6 separate regions of the Homo sapiens genome follow, and all the other regions are linked to region 3. The links come from fine-mapping of genetic effects on gene expression. A gene starts in region 3. Each other region holds a variant in brackets. All regions are shown on one strand. Distances are from middle to middle. Region 1 has its middle 39 kb from the start of FCN1. Region 2 holds the start of FCN1 (ficolin 1). Region 3 holds the start of OLFM1 (olfactomedin 1). Region 4 overlaps LOC101448202 (a long non-coding RNA gene). Region 5 has its middle 66 kb from the start of FCN1. Region 6 holds the start of LOC105376314 (a long non-coding RNA gene).

The links.
Region 1: its variant is fine-mapped to the expression of OLFM1 in whole blood (INTERVAL, PIP above 0.99).
Region 2: its variant is fine-mapped to the expression of OLFM1 in whole blood (TOPMed, PIP above 0.99). The same link has a PIP of 0.9 or more in T cells and blood mononuclear cells.
Region 4: its variant is fine-mapped to the expression of OLFM1 in ovary (GTEx, PIP above 0.99).
Region 5: its variant is fine-mapped to the expression of OLFM1 in whole blood (TOPMed, PIP above 0.99).
Region 6: its variant is fine-mapped to the expression of OLFM1 in whole blood (TOPMed, PIP 0.97).

Annotation. Positions count from the first base shown.
Region 1 is chr9:134,954,015-134,958,825 of GRCh38, forward strand. No RefSeq gene overlaps it. Among named protein-coding and RNA genes, the nearest start is that of FCN1, 39 kb to the left of the region's middle. The variant G/A (reference allele first, on the strand shown) is at 2,223.
Region 2 is chr9:134,915,625-134,920,435 of GRCh38, forward strand. FCN1 (ficolin 1) reads right to left here and starts at 2,288. Exons shown (of 9, transcript NM_002003.5): 1 at 2,145-2,288; 2 at 724-837. The coding sequence starts at 2,247. The variant C/A (reference allele first, on the strand shown) is at 2,215.
Region 3 is chr9:135,085,720-135,090,530 of GRCh38, forward strand. OLFM1 (olfactomedin 1) reads left to right here and starts at 1,949. Exons shown (of 6, transcript NM_001282611.2): 1 at 1,949-2,420; 2 at 4,476-4,625. The coding sequence starts at 2,271. RefSeq lists enhancers at 249-1,109, 1,110-1,970, 2,605-3,409, 3,410-4,213.
Region 4 is chr9:134,857,790-134,862,600 of GRCh38, forward strand. The region is part of intron 1 of LOC101448202 (a long non-coding RNA gene); the gene reads right to left. Among named protein-coding and RNA genes, the nearest start is that of MIR3689F, 9.4 kb to the left of the region's middle. RefSeq lists enhancers at 55-204, 495-784. The variant A/T (reference allele first, on the strand shown) is at 2,905.
Region 5 is chr9:134,981,355-134,986,165 of GRCh38, forward strand. No RefSeq gene overlaps it. Among named protein-coding and RNA genes, the nearest start is that of FCN1, 66 kb to the left of the region's middle. RefSeq lists enhancers at 1,134-1,724, 1,725-2,313. The variant C/T (reference allele first, on the strand shown) is at 1,926.
Region 6 is chr9:134,932,363-134,937,173 of GRCh38, forward strand. It overlaps LOC105376314 (a long non-coding RNA gene), which reads left to right and starts at 4,162. Exons shown (of 4, transcript NR_188683.1): 1 at 4,162-4,211. It overlaps LOC124902302 (a long non-coding RNA gene), which reads right to left. Exons shown (of 2, transcript XR_007061846.1): 2 at 4,428-4,811. RefSeq lists an enhancer at 675-734. The variant C/G (reference allele first, on the strand shown) is at 2,515.

The DNA of each region.
Region 1 (4,811 bases), 130 kb before region 3:
CTTTATTTCTACCAAAAAAGTCAGGCAGAATTTCGATAGGGATTACACCAAATCTGTAGGTAAATGTGGGGGCGTACCACCATCTTAACAACAGCAAGTCATGCCCTTCAAGAATGTGGGATATCTTTGTGTTTATCTAGGTCTTTAAACATTTCTGTTAACAACCTTTTGTAGCTTTCAGTGTGCAAGCCTTGGGCTTCTTTTGTTAAATTTATCCCTAGGTATATATGCAATTATAAGTGGAAATTTCTTTAAATTTCATTTTTGGCTTTTTCATCACAAGTGTGTAGAAATAAAATTGATTTTTGTATATTAATCTTATATCCTGCCACATTGCCGAACTTGTTTATTTGTTCTAAGAGTATTTTTCATGGATTTCTTAGGAAGATCATTTCATTTGCAAATTGAGATTGTTTTTCCTTTCCTATGTGGATATCTTTTCTTTTTCCTGACTAGGTTTTGCTAGAACCCTATTGTTGAATAGAAGTGGGGAGAAGGGACATCCTCGTCATGTTTCTGATCAGAGGTAGAAAGCTTTTTCAGTCCTTCTGAATTAAGTATGAAGTTAGCTGTGGGCATCACGAGCACTCTGAGTATTTTTAGACGGTGCCAAAGCAAAGCCCTCCTCCGTTCTCAGCAGACCCGTGAACAGCCATGAACCCCAGTGTCCTTTGCTTTCTCTTGTTCCTTCATGCTCGCCTTCCACCCTCCTCTGTGCTGACCCCTCCAGGCTGCAAATAAAACCCACCAGCTGCTTCCTATGCTACTGTCAATGCATCAGCTAAAGTTGGAATCTCAGCACCAAACCCGAGCCCTTTGTGCCTAAGGCCCCGTGGCACAATAACCTCCAACACAGTCGTTAGGGTGAGACCTTAGGAGTGAACAACCCCTATGCAAATGCCCAAAAATGTATTCAGATGTCACCTATGTTTGTACCTGTAGCTGTCACAAATCGTTTAGAAGTGTGCCATTGGGTGGACGGCTGGATGGATGAAGATAGGGGACGATTTCTGATTTAACAACCACCAAGTGTCAGGAGAGAGAAACACAGTCTGCGAGTAGCACTGACTCTGGCAGAGATTTTATAACAATTCATGCAAAGATTATTTATTCAATAAATATTTATTGAGCTCCTATTATGCACTTGGCACTGGGGAAAAACAATGAAGAAGACATAGAAATCCTGTCCTCTGGCACCTAAGCCTGGTGGGTTCAGGGAGATGCATTTGGTTGCCCTGCCAGGGCCTGGGCTTGAGGAGGCCAAGCCATCTCTCCTAGTCATCTGAGCCAGAACTTGGCAAACTTCTCCCCAGCTGAGTGAGTGTGTCCAGAAGACTTGCATTACCAGGGACCCCACCATGCAGCCATGGCTTAGAGTGCCCTGGAGTCTGAGTTCAGGTCCCGCAGTTCAGAGCAGAGGGAAGGCAGCTGGCAGAGTAAGGAAGTAAGGAGAATCCATGCTCACCCTTGTCTCCCACTATGTGACCTTGGGCCTGGGGCTGGCATGGCAGGTGCTACAGCCAGACAATAGAGGCTCCAAACCCAAGTTTCTGTCACTGTGGGAGCTACCATGTCAGAGGAAGGTGATGATTAATGCACAAATATGTATTTTCTCCATCAGTCTGGTCTTTAACCAGTCTCTAGATTCATAATACCCTATCCAGGACAGGGTTTTCAGATGGAGCATCAATAATGCAGGTGCACACACAAATTATGAATGAGTTTGATCCTGGAGCAGTGATAAGTGAGACTTTCTTGGAAGGCAGGGCTCAGCTGACAGCTGTGGGCCCTGCAGTGACTCCTATCTACACTCTGGAGGGCTCCGGAAACCTCTAGCTCTGCGCCCCCTCCTCTGATGCAGTCCACATTGCAGAATGGCAGGCTCTCCTGTCCCTCTGGCTCAGCTTGTCCCAGCTTGGCCAGTCAGCCAGGGGCTACCGGGTGCTTCTGTGCCATGGTAGCATCTCTCCTCCCCTTGGCCTTTGCTGTGGAAGGAGCTACCTGGAGGAGATTGTGGCCTGGGCCAGGGACATCTGTGCCATCACCCTGGCAGGAGGTGAGGAGGCAGTAAAAGGGCAGCCCAGACTGGCAAGAGAGGGGCTGCCCACTTCGGGGGCATCACACCTACAGGAGGCATGTCCTCCAGCACGTGGTCTTCACGCTGCCCCCCGACTTGGACCTCCTTTTAAACTGTACCACACTGGGAAGTCCTTCACCACGGT[G/A]GGGCTCACCCTCACCACTGGTCCATGGCAAGGTGGAATAATACTTCCTGAGCTCCTTTTCCCCTCCAACAACTTCAGAGAATGAACAAGAAAGAGTCTAGAAGATGCAGCTGGAGGTGCCATTTTTCCTGGCATGGTGTTAAAAATTTTAAATGGGGCTGCAGTAGCCTTTCCATCTGTGTGTGTCTCTAGCTGTGTGTTTATCTGTTCACGTGTGTTGTGTGTATGTGTGTGTCTCTGTGCACGTGTGTCTCTGGGTTTCTAGGTATGTATGTCCATGTGTATTCACGTGTGTGCATGTGTTTCTGTGTATTTGTGTGCATATGTATGTGTCGATGTGTGTGTGTATGTGTGTGTCTCTGTGCACGTGTGTCTCTGGGTTTCTAGGTATGTATGTCCATGTGTATTCATGTGTGTGCATGTGTTTCTGTGTATTTGTGTGCATATGTATGTGTCGATGTGTGTGTGTATGTGTGTGTCTATGTCCCTGTGTGTGTCTGTGTCTATTTCTGTGTATGTGTCTGTGTGTGTATCTGTGTCTGCATCTCTTTGTGTGTGTGTATCTCTCTGTATGTGTCTGTGTATATCTGTGTGTGTATCTCTGTGTGTATTTCGGTGTCCGTGTGCATGTGTGTCTGTGTGTGTTTCTGTGTGTGTCTGCATGTGTATCTCTGTTTGTATGTGTATTTCTGCGTGTCTGTGTGTATCTCTGTGTGTATTTGTGTGTATTTCTGTGTGTCTGTGTGCATGTGTGTCTGTGTGTCTTTCTGTGTGTGTCTGTGTCATGTTTGTGTGCATTTGTGTCTGTGTGTATTTCTGTGTGTGTTTGTGTCTGTGTGAATGTGTGTCTGTGTGCATTTGTGTCTGTGTGCATTTGTGTCTGTGTGTATTTCTGTGTGTCTGTGTGCATTTATGTCTGCGTGTATTACTGTGTGTGTCTGTGTCTATGTCATGTTTGTGTGCATTTGTGTCTGTATTTCTCTGTGTGTTTGTGTCTGTGTCATGTGTGTCTGTGTGCATTTGTGTCTGTGTGTATTTCTGTGTGTGTCTGTGTGTGTTTGTGCATGTGCACACATGGGTGCTCCAGCCACCGAGCCCAGCCCTCGGGGCACAGAACCCTCTGGGCACAGGGGCTTGGTCTCTGCTTCCGAAACGGCACCGCCAATGTCTGTGAGTTTCGTGGGTGTCCCTGTGTGATCCCCTCACTGGAAAGTCTGGCTGGCTACAGACATTGCTGCTATTCTCCTGGCAACTGCTGCAAACCACAAAGAGCTTCTTTCTTATCCTTTGGGAGCAGGGGAACAAGGCTTCACTATAAGGGGATTAGGTTTGTATTAGGCTTTGATCAGAGAGGCAGAACCACCAGGAAATGTGGCTGAGGGATTTATTGTAGGATTTGCCCATGTTTGATAAGTCAAAGAAGGCTCTTGCTTCTGTGCCTGGTGTGGCAGCCTAGGGTCAGAAGAGCAGGTGGTGGGGCAGGAGAGCTGCATGTCAGGTTGGGCAGCAGGAGCGCCCTGGAAACTGCCGGGTCGGATGTCCTCTGCAAGGCAGTCTCCCTGTTGCTGTCCCCAGCTTTAATTCTGGGATCCCACAGGAGAAGATGGGGCCCTTCATCAGGTGCTAAATGTCACACCTGTCCTGGGAGTTAAAGAACTCATGGAAGACTATGGCAGGAACAGGGCTGCTGTGGGTCCCCTGCTGCACACTGGCAAGGTGCCTGCCCACAGGTGACAGCATGCAGGGCTGCAACAGCTCCAACCTTCTGGGCACAAAAAGAACATGGCCACTGCTTCCCGCCTTCCCAATTCTGCACCATGCCTCTTGGGGCCAAACTGACCAGGGGCTATGTAGGAAAGGGCATTCTGGGCAGTACAGTTCTGCTTGGGTGGGCTGATGCAATAGAAACCCACCACGGTCTGCCCCTTGTCAACCTGGCACCATATATGACTCACTTAGACACACTTAATGCCTGAATAAAGACAACAGCAAAATCCTTGCTTATGCCTAGCATGAAGCATGATCCTCTGAACAACTGAAAACACACTCTGCCCAGAAGAGGATACAAAACCCCTTCCTCCACCCCTGGGTGACATCTCTTCCTCCTACAGCTAAGTCTCACACCCTTTCTGATATCCTGTGGCCTAAACGCCAAGTATATTTGTTATCTATTGCTCTATAAAAAATCACCCCAAAATCCAGAGGCCTAAAACAATAAATGTGCATGATCTCACCTCTTCTGTGGACAAGAGTCTGGGCATCGCTAAACTGGCTGCCTGTGGCTCACAGTTCCTCGCTAGGCCTCAGTGAAGCTTCCAGCCAAGGCAGTGATCTCATCTGAAGACTGGACTGGGATGGTATCATCTTCCACGCTTGCGTGCATGGCTGTTGGTTTGTGTCAGCAGCTTTCTGCCATGCAGGCCACTCTGTGGGGCTACTCATGATGTGGCAGCCTGCTTCTTTCAGAAAAAGAGCTGCAAAAGAGAGAGAAAGCAAGATACTGCATGCAAGATGGAAGTCATGGTCTTTTTGTGACTTAACCTCTAATCTTGGAAGTGATAACCCTTCGCTTTTGTTGTATTCTGTCCA
Region 2 (4,811 bases), 170 kb before region 3:
GTCCAAGTCATAGGGACATTTGAGCTTGTCCCATCTACACTGGGACATCCCCACCAAGTGCTCCGCAGGCATCATCTTGAATGCGTCCAGGCATGGGGAGCTCACCCCCTAAGGCAGCGCCCTTTCTGAGTTTTTGTGCACGTCTGCCTTATGCCATGCTTAGGGGGACCCAAAACCACCCAAGGCAGGTGCCTGCTGTTCATTCTCCCATGTTCCCTGCAAATCCACATGCAGAGCTCAGGGCTCAGGATTCGGGTGCCCTCTGTGCCCTGAAGTAGACCAGTCCAAGTCCCAGCCCCACTCCTTACTGGTTTGTCAAGTAGGAAAGCCTGTGACCTCTTTGAGTCTCAGTTTTCCCATATGAGGCAGGTGCAGAAGAAAGCGGTCACCTCAATTTTCAGGTGAGAAGGTGGAGGGACACAGAGCTTAGAAGTCGTGCCAGTAGCTGAGCAAAGCTGGTATTGGATCAAGGACTAGGAGACAGAGCTACAGAAGCATGTCCAAATGTGAGCTCATGAAATAGTTAGGAAAGACCCTCCCTCCATTTCAGAACCCTGTTGGGCCCTGGGAGTCAGCTCTGTTCCTGGCTCTAGCAGGGGCCTGACCCAGGCTCTTGATCTAGGAACCACGGTGGGGGTGTTGCCCAACTCTGCATCCAGTTTCATAAAGAGCAAGAGCCAGTGCCCCTGCCATGCCTGGCCTCCCCACCCGGCCCGCACCTACCTCTCTCTCCAATGACACCTGCCTCTCCCTTTGGCCCTGGGGCCCCGGGCAGCCCCGGGCAGCCTCGGAGAATGGTGAGCTTGTCAGAGCCCTCCAGGCCCACCACCTTCACCTCTGCAGAGAAACACAGGTGCCCACTCAGTGCCTGGCCCAACAGTGGCTGGGAAGTGAGGTTTTCTGCTCTGCTGGGGCCTTGGTCTGTCCTCACCCCTCAGGCACTGGTGAGGCGGAGATGTGATGGGGGGCAGAGCTCTGGCTTTGGAGGCCACCCCGACCTAGGGGAGCCCCATCTCCTCAGTGCTGTGTGTCCTGCAGCAAGTAACTTAACTCCTCTGAGCTTTGTGCCCTGGGCTGCCAAGCGGGGATAATAACAAGGTTGCGGCCAGGATTTGGTTAAAGAATGTGCATTTTAAATCTCTTATTGTAATTTATGGCATTTAGAAAGAGCTTAATAAACAGCGGGCACTTTCAATAACTAATGACAATCAATATTTCTAAGAAACTTGGGGAATTGGGGCTGACAAAGCATTTTCCCTCCCAGACCTTGGGAATGTGGTTGTAGAATTACTGGGCTGGAAGGGGCTTTCTAGGTCCTCTGGAGAGGGGCAGTGTGGGGTCCAAGGACACAGAGCCAGGTGTGGCACAGCTGCAGCCAAACCAAAGTTGTTTACTTCTTTGAAAAAATATTTTTCATTTTGTTCATTACAAAATCTACACGCCCTGCTAAGGGCGCTCTTAGAGACCATGGAACGGAGCAGTGCTCTCACCGGAGACATGGCACTGCCATTTTTGGGGTATTTCCTTTCTGTGTTTCCAGTCCTCCTTCCACTAGAGCAGGCTGTAATTTACTATTTATGTTTCCTTCATAAATATGTTATCAGCCAGGGGCACCAGGCCGTCCTTAGGAGCAGTCTCTTGCTGAGCGTCACAGAACCACCTGCTCCTGAATCAGTGAGGGAAACACCTTACCACCGTTCAAACCCTTGTCCCTATCAACTGATTCCGACTCTCTTGGAGGAGAGCCAGAAATCTGCCTTTTTAACAAACCCCCCAAGTCCGTGTGGCAGCCACCGTATTAGAGGGTCTTAGAGTGCCTCCCTGGTAAGCCCGTAAGAAGATAAAGTCAACAGTATTTTCTTCCTTCTCAGTGACAGATTCCAGACCCACCTATGAAGCTCCAATGGGCAAATCCTGGGCTTTCGAGGCAGACAGACCTGGTGACATCCCTCCCCTATCCCTCCATGACCCTGGGCAATGCCTCAGCTGCCCTGAGCCTCCATGTCCTTGCCTGAGGATAAAACAGATCTGTTGGGCATCTTCACAGGAAGATGTGCATAAAAGGTTTTGCCTGGGACACCCGAGTGTCAGTGAGTGGGGTTGTTACCAGCTTTTAGGGACCAGAAAACCCAGGTCTGTCTCACCTGGACATGTGTCCGCAGCCTGGGCAGGCAGGTTCTTGATATGCAGGAACAAGACTAGCAGGACAGCGAG[C/A]CCCCGGGCCATGGTGGCTCCACTCAGCTCCATGCTCTCTGGCCTTTGACTCTGAAGAGTCCCCCAGCTCTAACAGGGCAGAGGAAACCAGCTCTCGCCTTGTGCCACAGTTTCTCAACTCCCTGGGGGACACCCACTTCCTATGGGCTGCTTAGTTGCACCAACAGGAGGTATGAGGTCATCTCAAAGGATGTTTCCTTCCACTAGGCTCCAGCAAGATGCCCACCCCATTGGGCTCTCTTCCCCCAGCAAAGACACCCTGCTCCCAGTCCAGAGAGCTCCTGAGACTCCTCTGCTGGAAAGCATCGGCTTTGCTTGTGGCTTAAGGAGAACACAGCCCCCACACCCCCTTTCCATTCCCCAGCTGTCCCCAAGCAATACTCGGAAACCTTGACCTTAACCTTGGGGGATAAGGAAGGTTTTGCTGAAGACGCTTCCTTGCCTCATCTGTTCCCAGAAAATTCAGGGTTTGTCCGTCATCAGGCACTTATCATGGATGGAGAGGAAAAAAATGTTGAGCACTTGTTATGTCCCAAATACTATTTCCATCATATCATCTTGCACCAGCCCCATTCGGTGGAGTAAATTATTTGAAAGTTACAGCTGGAGAAATTGAAGTCACTCCACTAGTAAGAGCCAGGCATTGGACTCAATTCTGTCTAACGCCTTGTAGATCACTGGGATTGCTCATTTCACCTGAAGGTGGGGATGCCTCTTGTTCCCCCAAATCCCTGAGGCCATGTTCCTACTCCGCATCTCGTGCTGTGAATCATGCTTAGCCAGGCCACGCTGTGGACACTTTGTGCGGGATTTTTAGAACGTATAGAAATAGTCACTAACGAGAGTCAGATGGTAGCAGGACTAAGGAGCAGGGAGAGGTGTTGTTTTGTGGTTTGCAACTTCTCTGAGCCAGCGTGTGTAGACTGGGTTTCCAAACTCAAGGGCTCCCCAGGTGGGAGAGAAGTGGAGGGGCGGCCCAGGGGTGGGGGATCCAGGAGACACAGGACCTTGTGTCCAGGCTCTCTGGGCACCACAACGACTCTCGACTGTGTGTGTTTGTGTGTGTTGGCTCCAGCCTGTTGAGAGACAACGGCAGGAGGCTTCATTGCCTCAGACACCGCTTAGTGTCCCTGAGCTACTGGCCCAGGCGGGAGAGGTCTGGGTGTCAGTGGTGCGGCCTCCTTTCTTGGAGAGGATCCAATTCAGGAGCAGCACTCACCTGGGATTGGGTCAGAACAGGGAGAAAGCCAGCAGGTCTGTGCCCCTCAATTCCATTTGCCAGCTGCCCCCTGGGTGTGAGGGGACCTCCTCTTCCTTGCAACATCAATAGGTTTATTTCAGGTGAGAAGTCAACACCACCTTCAGATATCAAGTCAATGTTCCCAAGAGTATGAAAGAATGCAAGATTCTGGCAAGTTAAAATATCTTAACATTGGATCAACAAAAGTCATTTGATTCCTGGCAATGGCAGTTTAGGTATTTGGGGGCATCCTATTAAGGACAAACAGACAAAACCTTTAAAAAGAGATTTGCTCGAAGGCACCGTCAAGCTAGCTATGTAGTAAAGGATTACTTTGCCAAGCTCTCAGGAGCCACAGAAATCTTAGAGAAGTGAAACTAGTAGTGGGGACCTCTTTTTGCACAGGGATTTGCCAATCTCCAAAAGAGAGGTGAGAAGTTGGGCAGTGATTTCACCATCTTGCAGAGCTGAAGGTCAAAGACTGGGGCCTACGGCCTGCCAAAGGTATGGGTTTGGGGTTGGCTTTCAGAAGGGCTGCACCCTAGCAATAGGATGAGTGAGCAACAACCAACATTCACAAGGGCTGCAAACTGGTTTTGAGACATCTAAGTGTCCCAGGAAAGGAATCTCAACTCCTGGAATTATTGCTCATGCCCCCAGGCTCCTTGCTGAAAGAAACAAAAATCTTCTCTGAAGGAGAATGACATCATCCCAGGTCATTATTTCTGCAAAGTGTTTTATTTTTTTCAAATGAAATGTTAAAACACAATCAACGATAACCAGGCTCATGGGAATAAAAGACAATGTGTATAAGGACCAACAGAAACAACAGAATATAGAAAGAGGTCTTTGGAAGCTGTGGATACAGAAGTTACAACATAATTAACAGGAAAAATGGAAAACCATCCTCAGAGACTGAGAACAAATAAGGATGCTTGTCATCACCACTGTGGTCAACATTGTATTGCATGTCACTGTCCAGTGCAGTAGGCAAGAGAACAAAACCATAAAAAGATTGGAAAGGCAGACACAAAGTTGTTATTTTCAGAAGACATGATTGAGGATGTAGAAAATTCTAGAGTTTCTACAGATAAACTAGCAGAATAAAAAGTTTAGCAAAAATCAATTGTGCTTCTAAAAACTAGCCTCAAAGAATTTAAAAATGAAATTTAAAAAATTTGCATCAGCAACACCAAATTCAAATAACTGTGAATAAGTCTAACAACATCCATGCTGGTCTTCTGTGTACAAAACTATCAAATAGGAACAGAAAGACCTAAAAGAAGATTAAAATAATTAGAAGGATATTCTATATGTGTGGATTAGAATACCAAATATAGGAAAAACATTCATCTTC
Region 3 (4,811 bases):
CCTTCATTCTTCAACGATCCATACTTTCCTTCTGGAATGCTCCATGGCCTTCTAAATCCAATTACACTTACTCAAGCCTTATCTGACGACCCTTTCAAAACCATTATGCCCACTGAATCACAGATTTTAGAAACTGGACAGGACAGTTTGGAGCAGGTGCAGGTTGGAGCCGCTCAGGTGCAGGTTGGAGCCGCTCAGGTGCAGGTTAGAGCAGTCCAAGTGCAGGTTAATCTTTTACTTCGTTAAATAAATAAATGTCTATGGCTTCTGAGATGGCCTGACAGTTTTGTGGATTGGATTGGGTTGCATTTGAATTTGTTCCCGCAGAACAAGTGGTCCTTGTCCTTCCGCAGCGGGAAGCGGCGTGAGTGATCTGGACAGACACGGCTTGTGGCCTTGAATCGGTGTTAAACATGCATGGCCAGAGGAGGGGGGCGAAGCCAGCCCAACCGGACTTGTGTCTCCGCCTGGGCCCAGTCTGTGAGCCGGGCCTGCAGTCCCAGCTTACACTGGGAGATGGCGCCCTTCCCCAACAGTTGGAATTTCCTGGCATCCGACCCAGCCCGGCTGCCTGAGATTACAGCATTAATCAGAAAAGCAGATCTGAGGGGCTCATTTAACTAGCGGGTCTCACACCCAGCACTCAGGCCAGGATCATCTTGGCTGCAGCTGAAGTCTCTTCAGCCGAGGACTGCGCACACAGAGAGAAAAGCCCCAGGAAGGCGTTGTTCCTCTCAGGCGGGCGCCAGGGAGGCGCGCTCCTTCCGGCCCGGCGTCCGTCTTTCAAATCCCATCCAGGAAGGGAGATTAATTTTCGCCCAGGCAGAGAAGAGTGTAGTGAGTGATCTGGAGGATTCTTTCCTTCCCAAATGGCTGGGAAAGCTTAATGGAAGGCCCCGGAGGAAGTGGCTTTCATCTCCGATTAGAAGCCTTCTGTAAATGCAAAAGCCCTATTAACGTGTTTGACCCAGTCAGGCCTGCGCTTCAGGTGGGACTGACACGCGTGAGTCCTGCTGCGGTCGCCGCAGAGGGCCGGGAAGAGGGGCAGCGTGCGCCACTTGCCCTGCCTCTGTGCCTGGGCGCCATGACTCGAGCGCCACCCCTGAGTCAGTAAGGACACCCCCCAACCCACACCCCTCCACCACAGACCCCAGTCCCCGCCCCACACACCCACCTCCCCAACACCAGGTTCATGGGCGTGGTCCCTTCAGCTCCTGAGGTCCAGGCCTGAGCCCCAGACCTTATGCAGCTCCTGCCGGGTGTGCGCCCTCCCAGGGCCCTCACTGCGCACCGCGGGCCACGGCAGACCACCCCAGCCCCCGCCTTGCTGTGCAGGTGTCAGGAGTGCCGGTTGGCTCCCTTCCTCCCAAGCAAGGCCTTAGGGCACCGCGGCTGCCCTGGGATCGCAGGGGCGCCTTTAGCTCTCCACCGATGCCCCGACGCCCCCCTGGCGCTGGAGGCCCTCGCGAGTCTGGCTGCTTTTCGGAGCCTGCCCTGCCTGCTGGGTTTCAGGCGACGGCCCAGGCTGGCTGGGACCCTCGAATCACCGCGGAAAAGGGCTCCAGTAGGCAGGACGGCGCCGTCTCTCTGCCGGCAACCTTTGCCCCAAAGCGGACCCTCTGCGGGGATCGGAGAGGGATGCCCCGGCGTGAGGATGGGAGAAGCCCCGGGACGGGAGGGCCGCGGGCCGTGCCCCCAGCTGGAGTCCCCGCGCCGCCGCCGGGTATTTTATGATCTGGGGGTGGTGGTGTGTCCGTCTCCTCATGTCACCCTGATCCCAACTCCTGGGCGGACTGGAGTTTGCAGACCTCGCTGCCAGCAGCCAGGGGGCGGCGGGGAGCCGAGCGAGAGGAAAAATCCACCCATTTCCTGGGCGGATTGCGTCGGTCCCGCCCGGCCGAGCCCCGCCTCCCGGCCGCGGCCCCCGCGCGCAGCCCGCGCAGCGCTCAGAGCCGGACGGCGCTTCCCGGTGGCGGCGGAGGAGCCCGGAGGGACGCAGCCGGGCAAGGCAGGGCGCAGGGCGGGCGGCGCGAGGCGCAGGGCGCGGCGGGCAGAGGCCACCTGGCCACCTTCCCTGGCGCCCGGGGAAGGCGCGGCGATGGCCGGGGCGCGCGGGGCGGCGGCGGCGGCGGGCGGGCGGCGGCGGGCCGAGGGGGCGCGGGGACACAGCCAGGCGCCCCTGCCCGCCGCGGTGCCCGCCGCCTGAAGGCCGCCTGGGCGCGGGAGCCGGTGCCAGCTCGGAGCGGGCGCTGGAGGCAGCTCGAGGCGCGATGTCGGTGCCGCTGCTCAAGATCGGGGTCGTGCTGAGCACCATGGCCATGATCACTAACTGGATGTCCCAGACGCTGCCCTCGCTGGTGGGCCTCAACACCACCAAGCTCTCGGCGGCCGGCGGCGGGACGCTGGACCGCAGCACCGGCGTAAGTGCGCCCGCCGGCCGCCTTGGCGCGGCTCCTCCTCCTCCTCCTCCTCCCCCTCCTCGGTCCGGAGCCCCGGGCTGGGCGGGCGCCGCGCGGGACCCGAGTCGCCCAGGGAGGCGGCGGGGAGCAGGGCGGGCAAGGGCAGGCGTCGCGGGCCGGCGCAGCGGTGGCGACCCTGCTCCCCGCTCCCCCAGCCTGGGCCACTCCATCTCCGCCCGCGCGCCCCTGGGGCGGCGTTTCCTTCGTCTGGGCCCCTCGCCGCGGGGCCGGGGGAGCTTGGTGGGTTCTCGGAGGCTTGGAGTCCTGGGTCAGTAATCATGAGCCCCCCATTGAAAAGGTTAGGAAACTAAGGCTGGGGACTTGGGGACTTGTCCAAGGTCACACTCAGCGAGTGAGGGGTGGAGCCGCCGCTAGACCCTAGTCTGGGCTCGGTCCAGCGGGGACTGAGCCCGCCCTAGTTTGTAAAAGCCAGACTGGCCGGACCGGGCTGGGAGTGGGGCCCCAGCCGGTGGGCTCCGGAGCTCCTGCCCGCGCCTGCATTCCCAAAGTCCCAAGGCGCCCTTTCCTCCCCAGTCCATAGGAGGGTTTGTTCCTTCTCCTCCGAGGACGGTGCCGAGGGGCTTGGGTGGGGCCCCTGGGAGCCTGCCCTTGGGCGCTCACCCCCTCGCCTTTGCCTTCGTCTTCTGCGCGCACCCCTCCCTCCTGGCCTCTGAAATTGAAATCGCGTCTCCCTCTCGAGCCTAGCGGGAGGGGAACCGTGGCCGGGGCTGCTTCTGGGCAGAGCTGACTTAGATGGCTGAGCGAGGCTGAGCTGAAACCGCCACCCGGAGGGCCGCGCGGGGAAGGGGCCGCTGCCGGGAAGGCGCGCCCCAGACCACTGGCCCTTTAGGCTGAAAGGAGAGGTGAAGGACGTGAGTCTCCCTCCCTCTCTCTTTTTGCTGCCAGGGGTTTAGTGCCCTGCGAAGAGGGCTCCGTGGTGTGGCTCCCTCCTAAGACCCCTCTTGAGGCCGCCCTCCCTGCTCCTTCAGGAATCGGAGGGCGATTCCTCCATGATGACTTTGTTCCGGCCTGCCGGTCCCGATCTTCTGGGGTTGGGAATGAATGAGATTAAAGATATGACTACTATAGATTCTACCCGCCCAACTTCTCCTCCCCATCTTCATGCTAAAAATAGCAGAGAGATGACCTGATGCCACCGGAGGGGAGCGTGCTCAGAGACAGTAGGGCCAGCAGCAGGATGGAGCTGTGTAGGCTCAGGAGTGCCCGCCCCGGTACCTGGCAGGGCTGGGCTGCAAGGTTAGACCAGACATGGGCAGCTCCGGTTTCTTTGGTGATCTTTGGGCAAACCTCAGGACTGAGGTTGGGGGTGACCCCTGCACAGCATGTCACCAGCAATTTGGCGACCTCCACCAAATGGCTCGTGGGGGGAGCCCACAAGGAGCTGGAAACCTAGTGTTTTCTCGGGTCGGTCTGTGCCACGCTGCCGGCTGGGAGGTTGCTGTAGCTCGGGGTTCATCACAGCTCTGGGCGAATAGGCTGCTGGATCTGGGGCTGTTACAGTGGGTGCTTCGTCTGCAAGTGTCAGGGAACGGCAGGGCGAGGCTTGGTGGTGCCAGCCACCCGTGCTTGACTTACGGGAAGGATATCCTGTTTCTGAAATACGTGCCCGCTGCAAGCCACCCAGCGTTTGCTTTCCTGCCTTGCTCCTAGTCCAGCCTGTGGCCTCCAGTTGCCCCTCCCATCCACCCAGCAGATCAATTTGGCCAGACGACAAACTCCAGACATCCCTTGAGTTGAACTTAAATTTTAAGAACGTAAAGGGTCTTGCCTCTTTGACATCCTTCCAGCCCTGAGCCCCCTAACAGGAGACCTGTGCCTCTTTGTTCCCAGGGACCCTTTCTTCCCTTTGGGTCAAACATGTCTTGGGACCATTTCCTCCCATCTTTTCCTTGGGGGTGGATGTGGACAGTTTCCCCTGGTTGTTGGCTCTGATACACAACCTCATGGTCTCCCTTTCTCTCCTTCCCTCTCCCTTCCCGCCCCGCCCCTCTCCAGGTGCTGCCCACCAACCCTGAGGAGAGCTGGCAGGTGTACAGCTCTGCCCAGGACAGCGAGGGCAGGTGTATCTGCACAGTGGTCGCTCCACAGCAGACCATGTGTTCACGGGATGCCCGCACAAAACAGCTGAGGCAGCTACTGGAGAAGGTGAGTCTGCGCAGAGTGTGTGAGTTTGTATGTGTGTGTGTTTGTGTGTGTGTGTGTGTGTGTACATGCCTGTGTGCTCACACCAGCACCAAGGCTTGGCTAGCTTGCAGGCCCCATTTTGACTCTTTCCTGGTTTGTCTCCACTCAAAATATTTGTGAATGAGTGAAAGGGTGGATGGACGGATG
Region 4 (4,811 bases), 230 kb before region 3:
GAGGGGAACATCACATGCTGGGGCTTGTCGAGGGGTGGGGGTCAAGGGGAGGGAGAGCCTTAGGAGAAATACCTAACGTAGATGGTGGGTTGACGGGTGCAGCAACCACCATGGCACGTGTATACCTATTTAACAAACCTGCACATTCTGCACATGTACCCCAGAACTTAAAGTATAATGAAAAAAAAAAAATGTGCACCTGGCATTTGGTGTGGAAGGTAGACCCAGGAGGCACAGAGGCGGCTTCAGCAGTCTAGAGAAATAGTAAGAACATGGGGGAAAGCATAGACGACAGTCACCCTGCTCACTGCCACCCCACTTGGTGCAGGAGGGGACCCCAGGCCACCTATACAGTCAACACCTTCCACGCTGGCTCCCACCACTCCTCACCCCATCTTCTGCTCTCTGACACCCTGGCCCCCTTCCTGTGTCTCAGATCCGCCAAGACTTTTTCCTTTATGTAAGACTTTACCCCAAATATTGCATATCTGACTCATGTTTTTCAGTTCTTGACTCAAATGTCACCTTTTCAGAGAGCTTTTGTGGAACTAAAAGTTAAAAAAAAACAACAACTCACGCCTCAGACTTCTAGCATCTGACAGTTGAGAGAAGCTTACATTAGATTAACTCTCCTGTGAACAAAAATACTCTGGAAAACCTACGAAAATACAACTATTGGAAGGCAATGCAGAGTCACGATGAGGCTGAGGACTTGCTGCCAGAGATTGAGGCGACCGGAGTGGCTGGGACTGGGGTGAGAAATTCTGAAAACGAGGGAGTCATGTGGGGAAGCCCCAGCATCTGCTGACAGAACGTGTTCATAGCCTTGCCTGCCTCCTGGTGTCAACATGCAGAGATGTGGCCTCCCTCCTGGCACCTTCTCTCCTCACCAAAGTGCCATGGGCAAGACTCACAGAGAAACAGTGAGCCCCTCAGAACTGGTAGCTAAAAGCCCATGGCAGGCTGCCCGGATTCCCTGGCCCTTAGTCACCTGGATTCCAAAATACCAAATTGACATAGACTCCAATGAACCTGCTGGGGAGAAGCTGCTGGAAGGCTGGCACGGCTGAGCAGAGATTCCAGCGGCTCCCCAGGGCTGAGGAGACAACTGGAGTTCAAGCCCCACACTTTAATGAATTTGGCAAATCAGGCTTTCCATTGAGACCCAATGCTTAAGCATTATATAAGCACCATATTCCAGAACTAAAGCTTTTACCTTAGGATTAAGGACAACACAGAAGCCTTCTAACAAAGTCTAAAGCCAAGCATCCACATAATCAAAAGTGATCTTCCAGCAACTTGCCTGCCTGCTGGCACAAAGCTCAGCTTTGTCTGAGAGAGGGTACAGAATTCAGAATTCTATGACATAGCATTCACGATGCTTTGCACAGAATCAAGACTTACTAGACATGGAAGTGAAGAAGGAAAATGTAATCCATAATCAAAAGGAAAAAAAAATCAATGGAAATGAATGAATGAGTGTTCAGACGCTGAAATTTGCAAATTATTTAAATAAGTAGAATAAATATGTTAATTTGTATGCAAGAAAATTTAGATGTAATGAGTGGAGAAATGGAGGATTTCAAAAGAGATACAGAAATCTAATGACAAGCAAAGTATAAATATTAAAAGTAAAAATTTTGATATGTAAAATTAAACATTTATCAGATGGGGAATATAAGGAAGGATCAGGGAATACAAAGAAGTGTTGATAGATGTAGAAAGTAAAAAAGTTCCTCTTCAAAGTTTCCCTTCTTATTAAAGAATAAATCATAAGTATTAGAAATAATAGTTTCTTTTAAAGACTAGCTTTATGCTAGACATGCTCACAGGCATGTAGTACATTCTATGTCCTTGTACTTTAACCAAAATATCTGTGCTGGAAGTGCTCACAGGCATGTCCCAGCTCGCAGCCCATGCCCCTTCCTTATTTGGAAATGTTATTACTTTTCTAAGTCCTTTCATAAGCAAATTCCTCTTTTCCTTTGTCTTTCCATTACTTTTACCTATTTAAAAAAGTTTTAAACTGTTAGCCAATCAGGTTTTAGTTTAGATTGTAAGGTCTGGCTCCTGCCAATGGAGACAGGACACAGCAGCAGGGACAAACTGCGTAAGGAATAAAAATTGCTTCCCTCCTTTGTTCGGATGTGCTCTCGCCATTATTCCATCTGCGATGAGCACTCTTTCTGCAGAAAGTACAAAAGGCCTTGCTGAGAGGATTAAATTTATGTTCAAATGCTATTTCTTTGCAGCACTGGGGAACAAGCATTCTGTTTCTACATAAACATTTTTACATGTGACATAGATACCAAAGTTGAGGCATGGAAAATAAAGTTTCTAGAACAAGTGCACAAAGCCTCCGTCTTCACTGGGAAGGTAGTGAGCAAACTGAGAGAGTGCAATTGCAGTCCAAAGAAGGGAGAGGGAAGATGAGGCAGAAGAATCGTTCAAGAAATACTGGCCAAAACTTTCTAAATCTGATCAAGAGCATGAACCTGCATATCTAAGATCTCGATGAAACCCTAGCAGGAGGCCGGGCACGATGGCTCACGCCTGTTATCCCAGCACTTTGGGAGGCTGAGACGGGTGGATCATCTGAGGTTAGGAGTTCAAGACCAGCCTGACCAACATGGTGAAACCCTGTCTCTACTAAAAATACAAAATTAGCCAGGCGTGGTGATGCATGCCAGTAATCCCAGCTACTCGGGAGGCTGAGGCAGGAGAATCGCCTGAACCTGGGAGGCAGAGGTTGCAGTGAGCCGAGATCACGCCACTGCACTCCGGCCTGGGCAACAAGAGTGAAATTCCGTTTTGGGGAGGAAAAAAAAAAGCAAACCCTAGCAGGATAAACACAAAGAAAAAATCGCACCAAGGCGTACTGCCAAAAACAAAAGGTCAAGGGAA[A/T]ACCTTTTTTGTTTTTTGAGACGGAGTCTCGCTCAGACCTTCCACTTCCACTGTTCTTCCACCTTCCCTACGGATCAGCGTTTCCATCTGGTAACACCTCCCCGAGCTGTAGACCTCCCTTCAGCGTTGCTGGGGGTATGGATCTGCTGGCAACAAATTCTCTCAGCTTTCACTCAACTGAAAAAAGTCTCATTTCACCTTCATTTTTGAATCATCTAGTTACAATTCTAAGTTAAGAATTTTTGTCTTGCAGCAACTTAGAAATGTTCTTTCATTATCTTCTCCTTTTATGATGAGAAGTCGTTTACCCTTCTGATTAATTTTTCCTTTTTTCTTCTTCTCCGGTTATTTTTAAGATTTTCCTTTAAACGGTGTGGTGGCTCACACCTGTAATCCTAGCACTTTGGGAGGCTGAGGCGGGTGAAGGTTAGGAGTTCTAGACCAGCCTGGCCAACATGGTGAAACCCCATCTCTACTAAAAATACATGGTGGCTGTGCCTGTAGTCCCAGCTACTTGGGAGGCTGAGGCATGAGAATCACTTAAACCAGGGAGGCAGAGGTTGCAGCGAGCCAAGATGGCACCACTGCACTCCAGCCTGGGTGACGGAGTGAGACTCCATCTCAAAATAAATAAACAAATGAAAATAAATAAATAAATAAATAAATAAATAAAAAGCCAACAGAGGAGAGAGAATGAAGTACTAAAACATGCTTGACCAGCTCAAGGCAAGATAGGTAAGATAGAACAAAGATAGGATATGAAATAAATAGCAAGATGGTACCCCTAACAGAACCATATCGATAATTACATTAAACGTAAATCAACTAAACACTCAGAAGGCACAGGTTGTCAGGATGGATTTTTTTTTTTTTTAAAAGAAGGATCCAGTGACTCGCTGTTTACAAGAAGGCACTTGCAGGGACAAACAGGATGAAAGCAAATGAATAGAGAAACACACACCACACAAACAGTGACCTTGCGACGTACCCTACAGATAGCCTCAGTTCATTTTCCTGCGTGCTCAGCAACCACTGTTTCCTGTTCCCAGTCACACAACCAGGCTGCGTTCCCTAGTGTTCCTTGCAGTCACCCAGCTGTGGTTCAGGTGGGGCCGAGGGGCAACAGGTGGAAGGGAGGTGCTCCATCACCATTAGGCACCAGGGAGTCACCAGAAGCCCCTGCCACGGGCACCCCCATGCTCTCTTCCAGTTCCAAGTGGCTGGAGTGGAGACCCACCTCAGGACAGGGGCCACATATGGAACGTGGAAAAGCCACATGCTAGAAGAAGCTGGGGACCTGGAATCACTGTGGAAGGAGAGGTGTCTGGCCAGGGGCACTTACCCTGTACTTTTATGACAGCAACAAATAAACGTGTGTGTGTGTGCGTGCATGTGTGTGTGTGCGCGTGTATGTGTGCATGCATGTGCATGTCCGTGTGTGTGTGCATGTCTGCGTGCATGTGTGTGTGTATGTGTGTGTGTGCCTACATGTGCATGTCCGTGTGTGTGCGCATGTGTGTGTGTGCGTGTGTGTGTAGCCACTGAGATAGCTGTTTCAGTTTGCTTTTCCTTAATAATACTCTCTACTCGTATTTACTTTGCAGCCCACATTGCTTTCTTGAGATATATGATCTGATATTATAATTATGCATTCATTTGTTTGTCTAGTTGTTTATTTTCTGTTTGCCCTCAATAGAACAGGTTTCTAGAGCACAAGGACCAGTCTTTCTGTTCCCTACTGCACCACAGGGCATAAAACAGTACCTGGCACATAGTAGGTGTTTATTAAACACAAGCCCTTTTTCTCTTGTACTTATGAGACCACAATAGTTGGAAGCCAAATCCCTGTGTGCTGGCGCAGGGAATGCTACTATAGAGCATCCATAGGGAGGCTGGGGGTGGGGCAG
Region 5 (4,811 bases), 100 kb before region 3:
AGGGAGAATGATGATTATACAGGGAGGAGGGCCAGTGAGAGAATAATGGTTATACAGGGAGGTGGGATGGCGACAGGATGATGGTTATACAGGGAGAAGGGACGGCAAGAGGATGATGGTTACACAGGGAGGAGGGATGGCGAGAGGAAGATGATGGTTATACAGGGAGGAGGGATGGTGAGAGGATGATGGCTACACAGGGAGGAGCGACAGCGAGAGGACGACGGTTATACAGAGAGGAGGGATCGTAAGAGGAAGATGATGCTTATACAGGGAGGAGGGATGGCTAGAGGATAATGATGGTTACACAAGCGGGATGGCGAGATGATGATGGCTATACAGGTAGGAGGGATGGTGAGAGGAAGATGATGGTTATACAGGGAGGAGGGATGGTGAGAGGAAGATGATGGTTACACAGGGAGGAGGGACGGCAAGAGGATGATGATGGTTACACAGGGAGGAGGGACGGCAAGAGGATGATGATGGTTACACAGGGAGGAGGGATGGTGAGAGGAAGATGATGGTTACACAGGGAGGAGGGACGGCAAAAGGATGATGATGGTTACACAGGGAGGAGGGACGGCAAGAGGATGATGATGGTTACACAGGGAGGAGGGATGGTTATACAGGGAGAAGGGATGGCGACAGGATGATGGCTATACAGGCAGGAAGGATGGCGAGAGGAAGATGATGGTTACACAGGGAGGAGGGACGGCGAGAGGATGATGGTTATACAGGGAGGAGGGATGGCAAGAGGATGATGGCTATACAGAGAGGAGGGACAGCGAGAGGGTTATGATGGCTACACTGGGAGGAGGGACGGCGGGAGGACGATGATGGTTATACAGGGAGGAAGGATGGCGAGATAATGATCATTCCACGGGGAGGACGGACAGTGAGAGGATGGTGGTTATACAAGGAGGGCAGTAGGAGCTGCGTTTTCTTTTAAATTATCTAAATGTTTAAATTTATCTTTTTTAAAAAATTAAGAGAAATTATTTAAATGACAGGCAGCTGCTCAAAGATTCCACTGAAGTGGAAGGGTGCCCCCATCTTTACAGCAGAACGAAGGAATCCTGCACATCAGGGCTGGGTGGGCTGTGGCTGGAGAGTCAGGCTGGCTAGGCCAGGAGAGGCTCAGGATAGCCGTCCGCAGCCAGCACCCTCGTGCTGGTGCCTTGGACTGTGCGTCCTCACAAACAGCCGAATCCTGCCTTGTTCCTTTCCCAGGGCTGTTGTAGCAAAAGACCATGAATGAGGGGCCTTCAACCCCCAGGAATTCCTTCCCTTGCTGCCCAGAGGCCGGGAGCTCAACATCCAGGTCAGTGGGGCGTCACCCCAGTCTCTGCTGCCATCTTCCGCGTGTGTCTCCGGAACCCCCTTCCCCTCCTAAGGCCACCCCCCCTCAGTACAACCTCATCTCAACCTGACTACACCTGAAAGACCCTGTTTGCAAATGAGGTCTCTTTTGCAGGTATTGGGAACTAGGACTTCCCCATATCTTTCTGGGGGACAGAGTTCAACCCCACGACACCCACTAAATGCCTGTATTGCTCCTGTAGCCCCTGGAAAAGAGCCATGAACAAAACACACCCTGTTTGTCCTTGGGCAGCTTATGTTCTACCGAGGACACACAGTAAACACAGAGATGATCATTTGCTGAGAGGGACAGGCCAGGGTGAAGGGGCGACGAGTGGGCCGCACTTTGGACGTGCGGTGGAGAGATCCTGACGCTGGAACAGAGCCCTGCTGGAGTGGGGAAGGACAGCCACGCGAAGGCCCGAGGGGCAGTTTTCTCTGCGTGCACAGGAATAGCAGGCGCAAAGGACCCTGAGCACAGGGGGCGGGGGTGGGGACTGCACTTCACCCGGAGGAACTTGACCCATAGCTTTATGCAAGTCCAAGTGTGGCCTGAGGTCAGTTAC[C/T]GCCACCTGCCGGCGGCTACCCACAGAGCCCGCAGGATCTGACCCGATTATCTGCCACTCGGCCCTTCCTGTCCCTCCCTAAATAAGGCACTCAGGTGGGCTGAATAACGGCTCCAAGTATGTCCACACCCTAAACCCAGAGCCTGTGAGTATGTTCCCTGGCATGGCAAAAGGGACCCTGCAGGTGGGATTAGGTGAAGAGCCCTGGGATGGGGGCTTATCCTGGATTATCTGGGTGGCCCCATGAGCCACAAGAGTCCTTATGAGAGGGAGGCAGGAGGGTCCAAGTCAGAAAGGATATGACCACAGAAGCAGAGGTCAACGCGAGAGTCGAAGATGCCACTGTCAACCTAAGCAACAGAGACAGCTCGTCCAGTGATGCTGAGTGTATCCAGGAGTGCATAGGCGGGGTTCCTGTCCTGGCTACGAGGGCTGTGGGGACCACAGGCATGTGCAAGGAGGTTGAGGCAAGGGGAAGCTTTTAAAGGCAAAGGGAGGCATGCACATAAGTTGTTTTGAAGCAAAGAGAACCCTGGTCACAGAGTCTTGTTGTGAGAGTTGACGTCAGTTCATGCCTGGAGATGGAGACAGCGTGTCAGGCAAGGGTTCTTGTGCATCCGACCAGCTGTCCCTGTGACTCAGATAGCAAGTGGCAGTTTGGAAAGTCCTTCGGAAAAGTTCTTGCTACAGGCATATGTAGATAAGAGCCCTTCAGAGAGCCTTTATGATAGTTCTTACCGCCGGCAGGTGTGTGGGGCAGGGAGGGCCCTTCTTAGCCTCTTGACTTTTTTTTTTTGTTAGGGTTTGACACAAGTGACTCTATTTTGATTCTGACAACTTTCACGTGATGTTCCCAGCTTTGAAGGTAGAGGAAGGGGCTACGAGCCAAGGAATGCAGGAGGCCTCTAGAAGCAGGAGAGGCAGGAAGGGGTTCTCCCCTGAAGCTTCCAGGAGGAGCCAGCCCCATTGGCACCTTGGTTTAGACCTTTGACTTCCAGAACTGTAAGAAAATAAATGTGTGTAGTTTGAAGCCCCCAAGGGTGTGGCACTCTGTTCCAGCAGCTACAGGAAAGTCATGCAAGCAGCACTTGGATGCCAGTTCTGAGGCTGAGGCGGGGGAGCGGACGGAGAGGCCGCCTCCATCACAGTATCACCACGGGGTGGGTCCCACAGCGCAGGTCCCACAGGGCTCCTGCTGCTGCTGATACTCGAACTGCAGCAGGGGTGTCCTTCCTTCCCAGACCCGGCCACGGAACAGCCTTGGGAATGGGGAACCAGGACCAGCCACGGAGCCACAGAGAAGCAGAGGTCAGGGTGAAAAAAATTCAGGATGCTTCACGAATGCAAGCCAGGGGCCGACTGGAGCCCCAAGTAGAAGTGGGGTCTGTCTAGGTTGGGCTCTCCAGAAGCAGAGGCCACGGTGGAGTCTGGGAGCAGGACGTCCAGGAGGTCCAACGCCTGGAAGTAGCGGAGGCAGGACCAGGCAGAACGATGCTGTGTGCAACCTGAAAAGCCTCTGGCCCACCTGGTAGGGAGCTCTGGGGTACACGGTCCTCATTGGAATATCCCATGGAATGGCTCCCCAGGAAGGGTGTGGGCTCAGTGGGGCAGCTCTTGGCAGCCCAGGCTGGCTCAGAAGATGCCGATGGCTGAGACTGTGGGCTGACTGTTCCCTGCAGCTGGGCAGTGAGGCCATGTGTGCAGAGGGTGTCTGGGGCCCATCTCCGTGTCTACCACAGTGCCCTGGGGATCATTTGAGTCCATCTGTGGCCAACAACAGACAGACCTCTGGCCATCTGCCATGAGATGGGGCAAGGACATTAAGGTTGGGTTCGGCTGCCACATCTTGCAGCTTGTGTCTAGCTTCCAGTGCCCTGGTTTTGAAGGATGTGCCAAATCCTACATAGACCTGCTGAGCCCCCGCCTTCCTCTGCTGCCTCCTTGGGGGTGAGTCCCCATCACTGAGTGCACGAGAAGAGACTGCCCGCTGGGATGTTACAGGTGGAGGAGAAGTCCTGAACCGAGATGGTAGTAAGAACGGCATATACAGGTGTCATGCTGGCTCGGTGAAGTTGAATATTTAACACACTCAATCCAGCAGCAGACACACTAGCACAAGTGCAAACAAGACCTTGATTCATTTCTTTCTTTTGTTCATTTACTCCACAAACATCTTCCTGGGGACTAATAGGTATGACATCCCTTCTATCCAGAGTCACACTGTGGACAGACCCTAACGTTAATTCTGGGGAATCTCTTATGCCCTTTGGCGTCTGCCAATCACACTTCTTGGTGTCTGATCCCCACGGCCACCTTCTCATTCACTTGGCTGGCAGCAAGCAAGAGCCTCCGTCATGAACAGCAAACTCAGCTTTCTACCAGGTCACTGACCGCAAAGCCCTGGCTAGGAACCACCGGGATTCCAGTTCTCGCTTAGCCACCACCTTTCTTTGTGACCTTGAGAAAGTCCTCTACTGCCTGGACTTAGTTTCCATGTTGATATAAAATGTGGAAGCTGCCACCAAAGCCCTCTCCTGAATGCCACTCTATGCCTATGAGATCCAGGTCTCCTGCCTTCCGAGTCCCCTGGCCTGTGGCTCATTATCCCATTTCCCATGGCCGCGGGTGCCCTGAGCCTTCCCTTTGATATTTGTTCCATTTCTGAGAATGTGGTCAGGTCAGAGTCTCAGGAATGTCCCTCTTTGAGGCTGATGTCTGGACCACTGAGGTCTTCCTATGGTGTGGAATTGTTTGCATGGATGGCACCACCATGTCTCCCATCCCACGTGTAGGGCCCTTTTCAATGTGACCCTGCAGCTCCACTGAAAGTGGAGGCTGTTTCCTGCCCCTTGCATCTGGGCCAGCCTTGAGACTGGCTTTGAGCTG
Region 6 (4,811 bases), 150 kb before region 3:
AGCACTCTTGATTGCGATTGCGTTGAATTTGTGGGTTCGTCTGGAGACACTCGGCATTGTCCTGACATCAGGCCGCTGCTTCTGAGAGTGTGGAGCGCGCAGAGCCCTGCCCGTCTTCAGACTGTCTTCCACATCTTGTATCAGAGTGGACATTTTTGGTTGATTCCTAGATACTTAATGAATTCTGTTCCTGTGGTGAATGGCATCTTTTTCAGAATTATATTTTCTAATTGGCATTGCTGGGGAAAAGAAATGGTTTGGACTTCTGTAGGCCCAATATGTCTAGCAGAAATAGGCCATGTATCTGTCAGTCCTACTGGTGTTTTTCTACATAGATCATTTGATTAGGAAGAAGTCAATGACTCACTAAAAACGAAGCCCAGAAAAACTAGTTCTCCATTGTCTAGAGTGGTAAGAACTCATTCTTTACACACGTGCACGAACGCACACATGAGTGCACACACACACACACACACACACAACCTGGTCTGTCTTCTCCCCTGCAGAGCCCCATGGGTCCTGCTTGGTGTTATGTCTCGTGCTCCATTCACAGCACACCAGGGACACAGGTAGCAGAGCTCAAGCCTGCTTGAACAAACAGGCCAGGTATTCATAGAGTTCTGGTAGCAAGGGAGTAAATTCTGCCCGATTTCTTTCCTCCAGCCTCAGAGGTGTCTTCTTCCTCTTCCTGGAGTGACTGGGGGGTGGCTACCAAGTTTGAAAGGCAAAAGCCGACCCAGCAGACCCAGTTCCCTGCCCCTGGTAGCCTCTCCAGAGGGCACCTGATGGCAGGCCCCTCTGGAGGATGGGTGCCTCCTGCCAGATAAACTCCCTGACTCCAGATAGTCCAGGCTGCAGTGCCCAGTGGCAGCCCAGGCCAGGGAAAGGGTGGGCGAGAAGCCAGGGCTCCAGTACAGCTTTGAGCAAGCTCTGCAACAGGACGGACTCCAACCATTGAGACCAGATGACCTTTCAGAGCCTTCTCTGCTGAAGCTGACTCTCCTCTCCACCCCCTGACCCCCCACCCTGCCCCGCTGGCTCCGTCTTCCAATTCCAGGAGTCACTGTCGCCGTCAGCTGGTGACCCTGCCACTACTCAGGCCTCATGGGCAGGCAAGGGTCCCCCGGCTCTTGTGTCAGGATCTCCTTTGCAGTAAGAGATCCTAACATCTGTAGAGAATGGGTTCAGCAAAAGGCACACCTGCCAACAGGGTGGTTTGTTCCAGTGCTCAAGGCAAAGCCGACCAATAACATGCTTAGGACGTGGGAATGTGAGATGGGGCAGCTGTGGTAGAAACAGGCTGGCAGCTCCTCCAACAGCCCCCAGCAGCAACCTTGGGAATATACCCAAGAGAAATGAAACAGGCCTCCACACAAACCCCCGCACAAGCACGTTCATAGTAGCACACTTCACAATCCCCAAAAGGTGGAGGTGACCCAGGTACCCTCAACAGAAAGGGATGAACACAGTGTGGTCTCCCCACAGAGGGGAGAGTCCTTCCCCGTTTCCTCTGTCCCCGTGCTGTCACCTCCTCCCTGCCCAGATCCCTGGGCTGGCAGCAACATTGCCCTTTATAAAGCCCCCTACCAGCTACAAAAGGTGAGGTGCTTATCAGCCCTTATGAGGGAGCAGAGGGCAACAAGAGTGAGCCACGGAAGGCAGGGAGCATGGGTCCAGGCAACAACAGGGCAAGCCCTCCTAACATGCCCCACATGAGAAGCCAGGCCACACAGCCCAGGATTCCACTGACGGGAAATCGCCACAATGGGCCGATTGACAGACAGAGAGAACATTCCTTGTGGCCAGGGGATGAGAAGAAGGGTGGCAGGGGGGTAACAGCCAAAGGGTCCAGGGTTTCTTTTAAGGTGATGAAAATGTCCTAAAACTAGAATATGATGATGGCTGCACGATCCTGTAACTATACAGAAAACCTGTGCACTTTAAAAGGGCGAATTCCGCCAGGCGCAGCGGCTCCCGCCTGTAATCCCTGCACTTTGGGAGGCCGAGGTGGGTGGATCACTTGAGGCCAGGAGGTTGAGACCAGTTTGGCCAACATGGTGAAACCCCATTTCTACTAAAAATACAAAAATTAGCCAGGCGTGTTGGCGCATGCCTGTAACCTTAGCTACTGGGGAGGCTGAGGCAGGAGAATTGCTTGAACCCGGGGGGTGGAGGTGGCAGTGAGCTGACATCACACCACTGCACTCCAGACTGGGCAACGGGGTTAGAATCTGTCTTTAAAAAATAAATAAAATAAAATAAAATAAAAGGGTGAATTCTATGGTCTGTGATTTACATCTCAACAAAGCCTTTACGTTGGACAAAGAGTGCTGGGATGAAGGTACCGAGTGGGCCTCCCCCAGCACCCAGGCCCAGGGGTTCTTAGATGGTGAGGAAGGGAGCCTGACTCTGAATACTTTAAAGGGGGGATTTTCTCTAGCCCAGGATAGCAGGGTGGGACAGGCCCTGCTCTGCTATGCAACATGGTCTTTTCTTCCTCTCCCCTCTTCCTTC[C/G]TTCTTTTCTCCTTCCCCTTTCCTCTGTCCCAGCACTGTCACCTCCTCCTTGCTCAGACCCCTGGGCTGGCAGCAGCAACATTGCCCTTTATAAAGCCCCCTACCAGCTAGAAAAGGTGAGGTGCTTATCAACCCTTACGAAGGAGCAGAGGGTGAGAGTGAGGACGTCGGGCATCACCACCCAGAGAGACAAACCAATTCATGCTTGGGACTATTTGGAGGTCAGCGTCGGCCTTGAGGCAGAGGAACCTGGGGCTCCAGCAGTAAGCATCCCTCACCCTGCGGCCCACTTTAATTTCCCAGAGATAATAGCACCGGCGCCGAGTATCTGCCGGGCACCTGAAGACGGATGGCCAGTGTTTGCAGGGTAATAGTTTGTGTCAGAGTAAACTGGAATTTATACCCCGGGAGGCAGATAATCCCCTTTAGAACTCTCCAGCCTCCCTGGGACTGGAGGGGCTTTCACAGGCCGCTTGCTGAAGACATAAACAAAGACAGCTCCACGGAAGCACCCTGCTGGCCCCAAGTCCTATTTTTAATATCTTAATTGAGTCTCCAAACCCTAGAACACGGTGGCGCGACCAAATCTCCAGCCTCCACCGACAGCTCTGTGTAGGAGAGAGGTCACTGTCACCTTCCACAAACCCGGGAAAAACAAACTGGGAAGCAGGGTCGGTTTTGGAGAAGGGGCAATTGCTGTTTTTTTGGTGGTGGTTGTTTTTGTTGTTCAGCTTTGTGTATATTTTTAAAGCTTATGAACAGATGAGAAAACTCCAGGCACGTATTCTCACCTAAGTTAAACTAATGGTTCTCAAAATCCCAAATTATTTTACTGCTTTTTGTTCCCCAGAACCAGCTCACAATCTGCTTCGCGCTTGATTTAAAGGCGCTGACAAGCTGCTGCCCGCTCCCCAGCACGGTGGCGAGACTGGATTGGGACTGTCATATATAATGCATGGAGTCAGGGCCGCGAGCCGGGTTGTACGCGTGTGTGATCCGCTCTGGAGCGCTGTTCCCAGAGCCATTGTGCAAACATATTTACTCTGCATAAAAGAATGGGATGAAGCTGCAAAGGACATTTGTTCATCGAAGTGGATTTAATTTTTAAACTCGCATTAGGACAGGATCAACCTTGCTGAAGGGTATGGTGATGTGGGTGGAATGTATAAAACTAATCTAGGATCCACGTTGCTACGGGAGGAGCGCTGGGTGGAATTAAATATTTATTGCACATAAATACCTTGTCCGCCACCTCCCTCACCCCTGCACAGTCACCTCTGTGTAGCGGGTTCTCTGCTACAGTAGAGGGCAGAGCACGGGACCACGGCTTCTTCCATCCTCCCAGCACCCCGATCTGGTCATGGCAGTGACAAGAGACAGCTGGGGGTGGGCACGTGGGTTTGCAGGCTCACACACGCACATGCACGCACCCACACACGTACACACACTGTCCCTGCCTGGGTTCTTTCTCTCCTTCTACAGAGGAGCGCTCTCTCAGAGGCAGAGAGAGCCCAGCCAGCCATGGTCACCATTAAGTCACCTCCATCATACTCTGTGAGTTAGGGGGGCAAGTGAGGATGTGATCCACCAATCCCCAACGAAGAATCCTAGGGAAGAATCTGATTGGCTAGTCACCTGCCAGTCATCACAGCCGAGGGAAAGGAGGGGTGGAGCAGCGACTCCACCAACTACAAAAGGTGAGGTGCTTATCAACCTTTATGAGGGAACAATGGGTGAAGACAATGACCAGGGTGCAGGCAGGCTGACCATCCCATCGGTTTGCCTGGAACTGTCCTAGTATTAGCAATGACAGTCCCATGTCCCCAGGGCAAACCAGGGTGGTTGGTCACTGAAGTTCAAGTCCCTCTAGACATTTCCAAACCTAATTAACAAGTTGGGGAAGCGAGCTGTAACCCGTTTCTCTAGCTCTTTATTTGTGTGATTTGGCCAGAAATTGCTTCAAGAGGAGACGTTCAAAAAGGAACAAAAAATCAGAACTGAAACAATGTCGGAGGGCACTTTGGGGTTTCTTCAGCAAAATGCAAATCCCTCCATTATCTTGTGGTTTAAACCAAAGCTGCCTTTTGGAAACTCCCGCTGATTCTCCAGCCTCATGGAGGGTGGCAGGTTCCTCTTTTAAGTGTTCCAGGCTAGGAGTTGCGTGGTTAACGCTGGGGTAATACACACTCTGTATTTGCTACCACAGCCCCCCACCCCTAGAAGTCTCCCAAGAGGAAATCGGTGGTGTGGTCATGCACAGCTCCTGTGCTCCTGATGGAGACTGTTGTGGATCCAGG